3 separate regions of the Homo sapiens genome follow, and all the other regions are reported to be linked to region 1. Evidence: microRNA targets listed by miRTarBase, many of them from high-throughput screens and not tested one by one. Region 1 holds a microRNA gene; each other region holds the end of a gene's coding sequence.

Region 1 (4,145 bases):
GCCCCCTCAAGGCAGAGTCCCCAAATCTCCTGTCTCGCAGAAGGACACTCGTGAAGTGGTAGCCATAAAGTGTGTAGCCAAGAAAAGTCTGAACAAGGCATCGGTGGAGAACCTCCTCACGGAGATTGAGATCCTCAAGGGCATTCGACATCCCCACATTGTGCAGCTGAAAGACTTTCAGGTGTGAGCCTGGGGCGGGGCCGCTGCCAAAGGGAGCTGGAGAAGGGACACTCTCTTCAGGCCGCCTCTCTGCCTCTAAACACAGTGGGACAGTGACAATATCTACCTCATCATGGAGTTTTGCGCAGGGGGCGACCTGTCTCGCTTCATCCATACCCGCAGGATTCTGCCTGAGAAGGTGGCGCGTGTCTTCATGCAGCAATTAGGTAAAGGCCTGTGACACCAGCCTGACACTCTGTCCCTTGTTCTCTGCCCCCCACCATCCCACCCCTCCCCCAGGCTTAGAGCCTTGGCACGCATTGCAGCTGCCTCCTGCACAGCCTGAAATTTTATGGTCCTGTTTATCTCATACACTCAACCCTTGCTCAAGGACGCTGTGGGAGAGATGAGGGGGTAACCCCTCTGTGGGGTGTTCAGGCTTCCATACATAGAACATAATATAAGGACCTTGTAGAACATTCCAGAGTCCTGTAGGTAGGACTCAAGTGCTGTGCCAAGGAAAAGAGCAGGATCTCAAGGGCTGGGGCATCCAGAGAAGCTTCTGAGAGGTGGGGAGACTTGTGAAGGGGCAGAGGGAAGGAGGGTGGGCACTCGGGTGGGGTGGCAAACTCCTAGAAGTGGTGTGATCTTGGTGCTTATATGGAAAACATTAGACCAGCCAGGCAGGAACTGGGGTTGTGCAGGCTTGAGGAGGCAGATGTGAGCCGGGGAGGCGAGAGGCAGGCGGGAATGGGCTCTGAACTGTCTCTCTTCGTGGGTCCTGCTCCTCAGCTAGCGCCCTGCAATTCCTGCATGAACGGAATATCTCTCACCTGGATCTGAAGCCACAGAACATTCTACTGAGCTCCTTGGAGAAGCCCCACCTAAAACTGGCAGGTCTGTGTCTGAAACAGCAGGGATGAGGTTTGGAGAGTGCAGAGGCCTCCCTCTGCCTGGGCTCACTCAGCAGCCCTGGTTCTTATGGAGCCCTCTATAGAGTCCTCAAAGAGTGACAGGCCGTGAAGTCTGGGGTTGGGCCCTGTCATCAAAAGGTGGAAGCTTTCTCAGGCTACCCATGCTCAAGTCCAGCAGCATAATGGGTGGAGTTAGGGCTCAGTCTGTGGCCAGAGTTGGGACTCACTGTGTGTCCAGGTTTAGGGGTCAATCTGGGAACAGTGCCAGGGTTCAGCGTGTGACAAGCATCAGGGATCCCTCTGTGGGCAGGGACAGGACTTGGTCTGTCATCAGAATTGGGGCTCAAGTCTGTGACTCCATCTGTGGCCACATAGGAGGGGTGTGGTGGGGGAGTAGGAGGTGGTGACCCTTGATAAGATTTGGATAATTGACACTGGAGGCCAGAGACTGTGATAGAACCTAAGCCTGGGGGGACAGTGAGAGGGTGGGGGCTTATGCAGGTAGCTGGTGTGATCAGGTGGGCTTCCTAGGAAAAGGTGCCCAAGGGAGCTGGGAAGGATGGGTAGGTTTTATACCCCAGAGGCAGATATAGGAGGGTGTTCCAGCCTAATGATGAGCAGAGGCTTGGAAATAGGGTTGATCCTGGCGGGTCTGGAGGGTGGAGAGGAGCCTGGGGTGAGGCTTTACAAGTCAGGAGCTGAAGCAGCTGGAATTCAAGCCCTGCTGCCTCTCCTCTTGCCTGCAGACTTTGGTTTCGCACAACACATGTCCCCGTGGGATGAGAAGCACGTGCTCCGTGGCTCCCCCCTCTACATGGCCCCCGAGATGGTGTGCCAGCGGCAGTATGACGCCCGCGTGGACCTCTGGTCCATGGGGGTCATCCTGTATGGTGAGACCTCTTTTCCCTGCTTCTCACCCTGAGGCCTACAGTTTCCTCAGGCAAGGCCTCTCTGGGCCACTTCTGAAGGGTTCTGATGAAAACTGACTGCTGGCCCAGGGCCCCTGCTGAGGGGCGTCAGGCCAGGCTTGACCCATTCCCTCCCAGCCTCCGCTCTGCCTCCCTTCCACAGAAGCCCTCTTCGGGCAGCCCCCCTTTGCCTCCAGGTCGTTCTCGGAGCTGGAAGAGAAGATCCGTAGCAACCGGGTCATCGAGGTGTGTCTAGCAGGGCCTTAGCGACCACTGGGGGGCAGAGGGAGTCAGGGCCCTGAGGGTTTAGACCTCGTTCTGACCTGCAGAGACTGGAGTATGGGCTCCAGGCTGCCTTTGTGGTGGAGGGGCAGGTTCTAGGCTGGAAGTCGAGGTGCCAGGCTGTCCCAGGGCCTCAGGTCAGCCCACAGCTGGCAGCACAGTGCCCATTTTGCAGGCCCTTGTGGGGAGAATGCAAAGCAGAGCCAGGCCCAGCCTTCCTAGGAGCATAGTCCAGGGAGGGAAATAAGGACCCAGAAACACGATTCTAGCTCAGCTCAGGGCTCCAGCGAGGGTGCACCGGGAGCCCAGGGATGGAGGCCTCGCTCCCCGCTGGCTCCATCATCCTGACCCATCCTGTTCCTCCTCGGTCTCAGATTCCCCACCTGTCCAACGCGTACCTCTGGGGTTCCTCGCAGACCCCTGGGCTAGGGGTAGGGGTGGAGGAGCCCAGTGTGATCTGTCCCTGCCGTTCCCTTCCCTGCAGCTCCCCTTGCGGCCCCTGCTCTCCCGAGACTGCCGGGACCTACTGCAGCGGCTCCTGGAGCGGGACCCCAGCCGTCGCATCTCCTTCCAGGACTTTTTTGCGCACCCCTGGGTGGACCTGGAGCACATGCCCAGTGGGGAGAGTCTGGGGCGAGCAGTGAGCAGACGGCTGGGGCTGGGGTGGGCTGAGGGTGGGCTGGAGGTCTCCTTGCCCCCGTTGGTGGTGAATTGGTGACTCACCCAACAGAGACAGAGGGCGGGCTCAGGGGAGCTGATCTCCCATCTTGGTGAGTGTGGGAGGGTAGGGAGGTGGACCTGACCCCTGATCTGCCCATCCCCAGACCGCCCTGGTGGTGCAGGCTGTGAAGAAAGACCAGGAGGGGGATTCAGCAGCTGCCTTATCACTCTACTGCAAGGCTCTGGACTTCTTTGTACCTGCCCTGCACTGTGAGTCCCAGGCCATGCCTGAAGCCCGTGGGTGCAGCAGGGATGGGAGTCATCTGTGGCTGCAGTAGGTGGATTCCAGAAGTTCTCTATCTAGAATTTTGTAGGCGATAAAGCAGAGCGTAAACCTGGAATATTGTGTTTTGAGGGATTCCAGAGGGTTCGTTGTGGGGCAGGGAGGGGTTCGCCCAGACTCCTCATATGACCTCACTTTCTGCAGATGAAGTGGATGCCCAGCGGAAGGAGGCAATTAAGGCAAAGGTGGGTGAGAGTCCCCATGAGGAAGTGGGGGGGCAGGGGGTAAGGCCCGGAGATCTCGGGGGCCTCTGGGGAATGGCTCTCTTAGAATTGGAACTTCCTCTCCTGCAACACAGAGCTGGGAATGGGTCAGGCCAGCCACATTTGCCCCCTGACATGTTTATAGCTTGAGGCAGTCACTAACAATGCAAAGGGAGAACTTGGAGGTGGGTTCTGGCAAGGGTAGCTGGTGAGACAGCCCCTCCTCAGGCCCTTTCCCTGCTACAGGTGGGGCAGTACGTGTCCCGGGCTGAGGAGCTCAAGGCCATCGTCTCCTCTTCCAATCAGGCCCTGCTGAGGCAGGGGACCTCTGCCCGAGACCTGCTCAGAGGTAGACTCCGGTTTCTGGCTGACCCCAGGGCCCCCAGCAAACCTCCCCACAGCCTGAGGGGGAGGCGGGTGGGGAGAGGCATCCTGCAGCGAACAGGCAGGTTGCTTCCCTCACCCTGAGCCTTTCCCCTCATCTCAGAGATGGCCCGGGACAAGCCACGCCTCCTAGCTGCCCTGGAAGTGGCTTCAGCTGCCATGGCCAAGGTTTGTGCCAGTGGGAGGGGTCCAGGTGGGTCGGGGCAGGGCAGGGAGATACCCAGGCCATGACCCTAAGCAGCCTGGTGTCCTTGTGGCTGCAGGAGGAGGCCGCCGGCGGGGAGCAGGATGC
Region 2 (4,145 bases), not on the chromosome of region 1:
GAAGACAGCTTTTAACACAGTTCCCTGCCTTCACAAGAGGTGTCAGATTAAGATGTGAAAGCTGCAAGAATGTTGCAGTGAACACCATTTCAGAGCTCTCAGTGTGCAGTTCAGGAATTAAGATACTTGGAATAGCTGTGGAGGAAGAACCTAAATTGCAAAGATCTGCTATTGCCAGCTCTCAACCCAAGTCAGTGAATTGTCAACCTGCATATCCTAAAAATGTCAAAATGCTGCATCTGGTTAAATGTCGGGGTAGGGGGGAAGCTGAAGGTGCTCGCTTCATTTGCCTTGTTTACTCATCCTGCCCTGTAATGTCTGTAATCCTGAAGATGGAATAAATTGTAACATTTAGTTTCTATCATTATTTGCCTCTGGAACTCAGTGCATTTTATGGAACTATTACCCTGTTACCCTACAAACCTCATATATACAGTGGGGAGAGTTTTGTGTTTTGTAACTTAAAGGTGAAGAAAAAGTGACTTGTCTTAAGCTAGGTGGTACAGTATGGCAATCAGAAACCTCACATTTTTTTTTTTTGAGACAGTCTGGTTCTGTCACCCAGGCTGGAGTGCAGTGGCGCAATCTTGTCTTACTGCAAACTCCACCTCCTGGGTTCCAATGATTCTCCTGCCTCAGTCTCCCAAGTAGCTGGGATTACAGGCATGCATCACCATGCCCAGCTAGTTTTTGTATTTTTAGTAGAGATGGGGTTTCACCATGTTGGCTGGTCTTGAACTCTTGACCTCCCGAAGTGCTGGGATTACAGGCATGAGCCACCGCACCCAGCCAAAACCTCACTGATTTCTAAAATTTCCACAATAGGCTATACAAATACACTACGGTACCAAAAAAGGATCAGGAGAGCACTTACTTACCTCAGAATGTCACGTAATCCCCACAATTAATTGAGTAATTTGGTTTTATTAGATACCCAAAGTAGTATGAAACTTGAATTACAGGCCGGGTATGGTGGCTCATGCCTGTAGTCTTAACACTTTGGGAAGCTGGGATGGGCGGATCACTTGAGCTCAGGAATTTGAGACCAGCCTGGGCAACATAGCGAAACCCTGTCTCTACAAAAAAATTAGCTGGGTATGGTGGTGTGTGCCTGTAGTCCCAGCTACTCTAAAGGCTGAGGTGGGAGAATTACCTGAGCCTGAGAGGTGGAGACTGCAGTGAGCTGTGATTGTACCACTGCACTCCAGGCTGGGTGACACAGCAAGACCCTGTCTGAAAAATAAACCAAGAAACTTGATTTATAGAAGGCCCTAATTCTATTGTCTTTTCTCCACTTTACCAATTGCTACATCATATTTAATGTGACTTGTCCTTAATGTCATTTCAAAACATTCTTCATTTATATTTTATGACTGGCTAGGGTCCATTATCCAAGGATTATAAAAGATGTTTGGAACCCAGCCAAGGGAGGCCAGGCAGCAAGCTGAAGTATAATGCATCTGTCCTAAACTCAGACTGGCCACAACCAAAACAGCTCTATAGGGACTCAGAAGTGCAGGCTGTAATATTACAAAATGGCAAAGACAATGAGATTCTCTATTCCGTTAATTATTACAAAATGGCAAAGACAATGAGATTCTCTATTCCGTACTGTATATGCCTTACTTTTGCGTTACCAGTTTAATGTAATATAATATGAAATACCTTGTTGCCTCTTGAACCTTACCACGAAAGTGTTCCTTTGAGCCTTAAGAATAAACCAGCTGGCTGGGCGCGGTGGCTCACGCCAGTAATCCCAGCACTTTGGGAGACTGAGGTGGGCAGATCACCTGAGGTTGGGAGTTTGAGACTAGCCTGACCAACATGGAGAAACCCCATCTCTACTTAAAATACAAAAAATTAGCCAGGTGTGGTGGCACATGCCTGTAATCACAGCTACTCAGGAGGGTGAGGCAGGAGAATTGCTTGAACCTGGGAGGTGGAGGTTGTGGTGAGCCAAGATCATGCCATTGCACTCCAGCCTGGGCAACAAAAGCGAAACTCTGTCTCAAAAAATAAAATAAAATAAAATAAACCAGCTCTGGCCAGGCACAGTGGCTCAGACCTGTAATCCTAGCACTTTGGGAGGCTGAGGTGGGCAGATCACCTGAGGTTAGGAGTTCAAGACCAGCCTGGCCAACATGTGAAACCTTGTCTCTACTAAAAATACAAAAAAGTAGCCGGGCGTAGTGGCGGGCGCCTGTAGTCCCAGCTACTTGGGAGGCTGAGGCAGGAGAATGGCGTGAACCCGGGAGGTGGAGCTTGCAGTGAGCCGAGGTCCCGCCACTGCACTCCAGCCTGGGCGACAGAGCGAGACTCCATCTCAAAAAAAAAAAAAAAAAAAAAAAAATAATAATAATAATAATAATAATAATTGCCCTCTCAGAGTGGTTTTGTAACTACTACTACTACCATTTACTATCCATTAAAGCAGGATAGTTTTAATTCCACAGAAAAGCCAATAAGCAGAAATGTGTCACGCTCCCTTTGTTTCTCTTAAGATTTCTGACCCTACCAGCCCTGAAGGAGATTACCTCAAAGTAAGAACTTGACACATTCGAGGCCAGGCACGGTGGCTCACGCCTGTAATCCCAGCACTTTGGGAGGCTGAGGCGGGTGGATCACGAGGTCAGGAGATCGAGACCATCCTGGCTAACATGGTGAAACCCTGTGTCTACTGAAAATACAAAAAATTAGCTGGGTGTGGTGGCGGGTGCCTATAGTCCCAGCTACTCGGGAGGCTGAGGCAGGAGAATGGCTTGAACCTGGGAGGCAGAGCTTGCAGTGAGTGGAGATCGTGCCACTGCACTCTAGCCTGGGCAACAGAGAGAGACTCCGTCTCAAAAAAAAAGAAAAAAAAGAACTTGACATGTTCAAGAAAATTATGACTACAGGGAAGATTCTGCAGTAAATGCTAGTGGAATGGGACAGGAAAAAGATGAGACCCAGATCAAGCACTTCCTCTTGAGAAATACAGATACCTCTTTCAGGTGTAAATTGCAGGCATTCTGCTAGCCATTCAATGTCTTTGATATCTCAGGCCCGTCAAGGACCAATCTTTTGTTTTTTGAGACAGAGTCTCACTCTGTTGCCCAGGCTGGAGTGCAGTGGCACGATCTTGGCTCACTGCAACCTCCACCTCCCGGGTTCAAGCCTCTACACCCAGCTATAGGAGTGCGCCACCACACCCAACTAATTTTTGTATTTTTAGTAGAGACAGGATTTCATCATGTTGGCCCGGCTGATCTCCAACTCCTGACCTCAGGTGATCTGCCAGCCTCAGCCTCCCAAAGTGCTGGGATTACAGGCATGAGCCACCGCACCTGACCAAGGACTAATCTTGATGCTTAATTAGCACCACTCCACTTGGTCCCTTTATCCACATCAGGCACAATAAACCAAGAGGGGCTGTTATAAACACTTATTCAATGGGCTGAATTGGACCTGTAACACTAAACAGCAGCCTAGACCTTCACTGTGGAAACAGAAATAACTAATGCCAATTTCTTTTCAACTTGGACACTGACTTGAAGCTCAAATGCTAATTTCTGCGAAAAAACACAACCAAAGAAAGTAACTCTCAGCTCATGACCAATCTAAATTTAAGTTATTTATTTAAGCCATCTCCTGCCACAAGCAAAGGGATGGGAGACCAGTATACCAGTCATCATTTGATACAAGTAAAGAAGGTGAGCTTAAGGTCCCATATACTTTTTCTGGTCCATGTGCAGAGTAACGGTCCAAACCAGTGCTGTGGTCCCTGGTGCCCGGGTAGTGGTCCAGATTCTCTTTATTCATCTTCGTAGCCAGTTGGAAGTGGATTCACATGAGGGTTATGGAATAGAGTATGGTTACCATCTCCCCAGGGAAACGGCTGTGGAGTGAAGATGTCAGTTAGATAATTCCAGAAAATAATTTAGAAAGAACACCGTCATGAACTGCTTATAACGGGGTGACAGATCATATATAAAAACAAAATGGAAATTAGTCCTTTATCTACTGGTGTAGTTCAACCTTCCCATTATTTAAGGAGCTCTTATAACTACCAGGGGAGCCCTTAAAGTTATCCTGGCTACAGGACAGTTTTAATTCCAGAAACAAATATGGATGGCAGAAAATGCAAGCTCAAGTTAGTTACTCATCAT
Region 3 (4,145 bases), not on the chromosome of region 1:
GAGATTGCAACCCCAAGCACAGCGGCGGCAGCAGCACCCCCGGCGGCTCGGGCGGCAGCAGCACCCCCGGCGGCTCTGGCAGCAGCTCGGGCGGCGGCGCGGGCAGCAGCAACAGCGGCGGCGGCAGCGGCAGCGGCAACATGCCCGCCTCCGTGGCCCACGTCCCCGCTGCAATGCTGCCGCCCAATGTCATAGACACTGATTTCATCGACGAGGAAGTTCTTATGTCCTTGGTGATAGAAATGGGTTTGGACCGCATCAAGGAGCTGCCCGAACTCTGGCTGGGGCAAAACGAGTTTGATTTTATGACGGACTTCGTGTGCAAACAGCAGCCCAGCAGAGTGAGCTGTTGACTCGATCGAAACCCCGGCGAAAGAAATCAAACCCCCAACTTCTTCGGCGTGAATTAAAAGAAACATTCCCTTAGACACAGTATCTCACTTTTCAGATCTTGAAAGGTTTGAGAACTTGGAAACAAAGTAAACTATAAACTTGTACAAATTGGTTTTAAAAAAAATTGCTGCCACTTTTTTTTCCTGTTTTTGTTTCGTTTTTGTAGCCTTGACATTCACCCACCTCCCTTATGTAGTTGAAATATCTAGCTAACTTGGTCTTTTTCGTTGTTTGTTTTTACTCCTTTCCCTCACTTTCTCCAGTGCTCAACTGTTAGATATTAATCTTGGCAAACTGCTTAATCTTGTGGATTTTGTAGATGGTTTCAAATGACTGAACTGCATTCAGATTTACGAGTGAAAGGAAAAATTGCATTAGTTGGTTGCATGAACTTCGAAGGGCAGATATTACTGCACAAACTGCCATCTCGCTTCATTTTTTTAACTATGCATTTGAGTACAGACTAATTTTTAAAATATGCTAAACTGGAAGATTAAACAGATGTGGGCCAAACTGTTCTGGATCAGGAAAGTCATACTGTTCACTTTCAAGTTGGCTGTCCCCCCCGCCGCCCCCCCCACCCCCATATGTACAGATGATAATAGGGTGTGGAATGTCGTCAGTGGCAAACATTTCACAGATTTTTATTTTGTTTCTGTCTTCAACATTTTTGACACTGTGCTAATAGTTATATTCAGTACATGAAAAGATACTACTGTGTTGAAAGCTTTTTAGGAAATTTTGACAGTATTTTTGTACAAAACATTTTTTTGAAAAAATACTTGTTAATTTATTCTATTTTAATTTGCCAATGTCAATAAAAAGTTAAGAAATAACTTGTTTTCTAGAAGTCATTTGGGGGTGGTTGTTCCCTTTGGTGGCTTTTTTCCCCCCGTCTTTGAGTTGAACACTATTGATGAGAGTAAGCATTCCAAAGGATAAATTACAGGACACTAAAACAGGTCATGATGAGCTTAAGCGGAGAGCAGGATTTAACATAATTGGCATAATGCTTCATTGTTATCATTGTAACATGCCTCTTGGTGTGCTTTAATCAAAAGCTGCAAAGTTGTCACTGCTTTTTTTTTTTTCTTAATTGCCATCATATCAAGTGTACTCCAGAGTTAGAAAGGTTTGCAATACTCAACATTATCTTTTTCAATGGGCAGGAGGCAAAAAAAATCAAGTGTTTCTGTTTATACCTGATTCAACTACTTAAATAGAGGTAGATTGGAATAATACACTGATTGATTGATGGGTGGCATTAAATATAAATCTACCTTTATCTCCAGTGATGAGAGTTTTATTTCTCAGCAAAAGTGCCAAGGATAGGTACATATTTTCTAGCGTAATCTCTGAAACAGTGTCTGACTGGTTTATAGTTCTGAGAAAGATGAGGCAGAATTCCACTTTGAGGCTTTTGTCCTATAATATTTAAAATGTACTCAGGTTGACTCAAAGGTCAAATTACAGTCTTTACAAGATGTTCCCTCTTAAGCATGCCCTGTTTTCCTGAATTCTGAGTTTTCCTGTTGCATGCATGGGATGCAAATCACCTGAAAATTATACTTTAATTTTACCTGGATAGATGTCTTATCAAGAAGACCATAGCTACAACTAAGTGGGTATCAAGTTTTGCCTTATATAATCAAGCAAAGGAAAAAGTAATATTGTGAAAATCTCAAATTATCCCAGGTGGAAGGAGAAGGAATTTTGTTTTTCATGTTTTCATGGCTTATCTTATGTTTATAAGAGCAACACACCTACCTTCAAGAAAAAATACAGACTTTTGTACGCAACTTACTAGGGGAAGTAAAAAATGTAGGTTGAGGAAAATCTTATAAATAATGCTTTAAAAGAACATTTCATTTAGACTCCGATTCTCATCTTAAATTCCATATTTTATAAGAAATCAGGAGGAGCGGATATTTAGAAGTGTTATGAGAGAGTAAGTTGGGCATAAAGGCTGCTTTAAGTATAATTCAGATCACCTGCATTTTATAATTTTATTTCCAAGGTAGGCCATGTAAAATTAAAATGCACACACTCCACTGGGTTTTTTATATACCTCTATAATTGACACTTTCTTCTTTAAAATTATGTTCAAATAAATATACTGAATCATCCAAAACTCTTTTTACCCTACTTTAAAAGCTGATCCAGATTTCCACATTAATAGTTAAAGCTGAAGTTTTCTTCAGCTAAGACATGTCAATACTAAATCTGCAATCAGCAATGAATCTTTCTGGCTAAGCATTTTCACAGTAAGTTTTTCTTTCTCTCTCTCTCTTTTTTTTTTCCAGAGGCTTAAGTGAAAAAATATGTTTGCATACATATTAATACAGCAACTCCAATCCTTTTTCACTAGTGCCAGGAAAAAAGGAAAGTGATTAAATGCATTTTTTTTTTTTTTTTTGCATAAAGAAGCCAAAGAATTGTCTTGCCACCACCCTTCACCATTTATTCTGCCAGGGAATAAGCCACAACACCTGCTCTGTCACTAAATTCCTCCTGCTGCTCAAACGCCGGAACACGTATGTGGAGATGCAGAGCCCAAGGAACTATTATTAGATCTTGAGCCCATCCCTACCAGAACAGAGGACTCAAACAGAGGAGCTGGGCTAAAAAGCACAATTTGTCTTCAGTACAAATACAAACGCTCCCGCACCCCAGTTCACTTGAGTGATCTCTGTTTCATTAAAAACTCTTTCTTGATCAACAATTGAGCAGATTCTACATGATATCTGCAGGTCTCTTAAGCAGAGAAAAATAACTCCTTGTTTCAACAACCTGATTAATGAAACCTGTACAGTGACCTAGATCACCCGGCTACTGGCAGACATTTGCAAAACCTTTTGTGGTCTTGCTTCCTACTAAGTTGCTTATAGCATATGGGGAAATTTGACCTCTGTACCTTGGCTGTTTGTCAAAAAGTTCTAATATGATACAAGAGAGCTTCTGTTCTTTAAGCTTTGCCCAAAAATAGACACTCCATGCTTGATTTTCAAGAAGAGATCAATGATAAGCTGCAGTGCAACCTCATAGCTACATGTCAGAAAAATAAGTCCACATTAATAAAAACGTATACTTCTGTCTTGTGCCTGATAAAATCCTCGTGACAGTATCTTTGCGGGAGCTGATAAAGACGTTAGAGCTATGGATGGGTCTTTGAAGAACAGTTACCTAATCACCACTGTTTATGGGGTGCTGGGCTAGAGCACTAGTAGCAGAAGGCTGACATCTATTGTGAAGTTTATGGTCTCCATGACTTTTACTACTGTAAACGCCTGGGATGGCTATAAATTGATGTCAACATTAAAGGCCAGATCCTTTAGAGAAAAATATTAATCCACTAATCTATTATGGGTGGCCAGCTTTGCAATAAAAACTTTGCAGCCCCGGACCATTAGGTGTTTTCGCCCCCTTGTGGAATTTATTTAGAAGGTCAATGAAAAGCTGTTTCCTCAAGAGCTTTTTCGCTTTTTTGTTTGTTTTGTTGCCATTTCTGAAGACTTTGTTTTCTTCTTTGAGCAAACAGCACATATTCGAGCAACACATTTTTTAAATCAAAGAAGATTCCAAAATAAACATCCTTTATAAAATAAGAATATTTTACTTACCAAAAACCTTAACCTATGATTAAGTGTGCATAATTGAGATTTGCCTCATATTTGAAAATATGCATTACCTAAGGGGTTTTCTTTTAAAAGTGTAAGGAGCAGTGGTTTGGGCTGATGCTTTAGCCTGCAAAC

The links. Region 1 holds the annotated microRNA hsa-miR-6882-5p (UACAAGUCAGGAGCUGAAGCAG, at 1,759-1,780, shown strand). A microRNA usually pairs through its seed, bases 2 to 8, with sites in the 3' UTR of a target mRNA and lowers its output. Matches are read on the target gene's strand: a 7mer-m8 pairs with bases 2 to 8, a 7mer-A1 pairs with bases 2 to 7 and ends in A, and an 8mer does both.
Region 2: the mRNA of COX6A1 is a reported target of hsa-miR-6882-5p. Seed matches in the 3' UTR shown: 7mer-A1 at 3,676-3,682.
Region 3: miRTarBase lists CITED2 as a target of hsa-miR-6882-5p. Seed matches in the 3' UTR shown: 7mer-A1 at 491-497.

The regions. Positions count from the first base shown.
Region 1 is chr15:74,838,316-74,842,460 of GRCh38, reverse strand. MIR6882 (microRNA 6882) reads left to right here and starts at 1,754; the gene lies at 1,754-1,819. It overlaps ULK3 (unc-51 like kinase 3), which reads left to right. Exons shown (of 16, transcript NM_001099436.4): 2 at 41-181; 3 at 266-386; 4 at 952-1,056; 5 at 1,820-1,963; 6 at 2,145-2,227; 7 at 2,748-2,903; 8 at 3,088-3,193; 9 at 3,411-3,451; 10 at 3,716-3,818; 11 at 3,957-4,021; 12 at 4,117-4,145. RefSeq lists an enhancer at 1-311 and a silencer at 2,788-2,935.
Region 2 is chr12:120,440,183-120,444,327 of GRCh38, reverse strand. It overlaps COX6A1 (cytochrome c oxidase subunit 6A1), which reads right to left. Exons shown (of 3, transcript NM_004373.4): 3 at 3,598-3,874. The coding sequence ends at 3,791. It overlaps TRIAP1 (TP53 regulated inhibitor of apoptosis 1), which reads left to right. Exons shown (of 2, transcript NM_016399.3): 2 at 1-364. Among named protein-coding and RNA genes, the nearest start is that of TRIAP1, 4.1 kb to the left of the region's middle.
Region 3 is chr6:139,369,340-139,373,484 of GRCh38, reverse strand. It overlaps CITED2 (Cbp/p300 interacting transactivator with Glu/Asp rich carboxy-terminal domain 2), which reads left to right. Exons shown (of 2, transcript NM_006079.5): 2 at 1-1,678. The coding sequence ends at 353. Among named protein-coding and RNA genes, the nearest start is that of CITED2, 3.2 kb to the left of the region's middle. RefSeq lists a silencer at 29-128 and an enhancer at 3,848-4,145.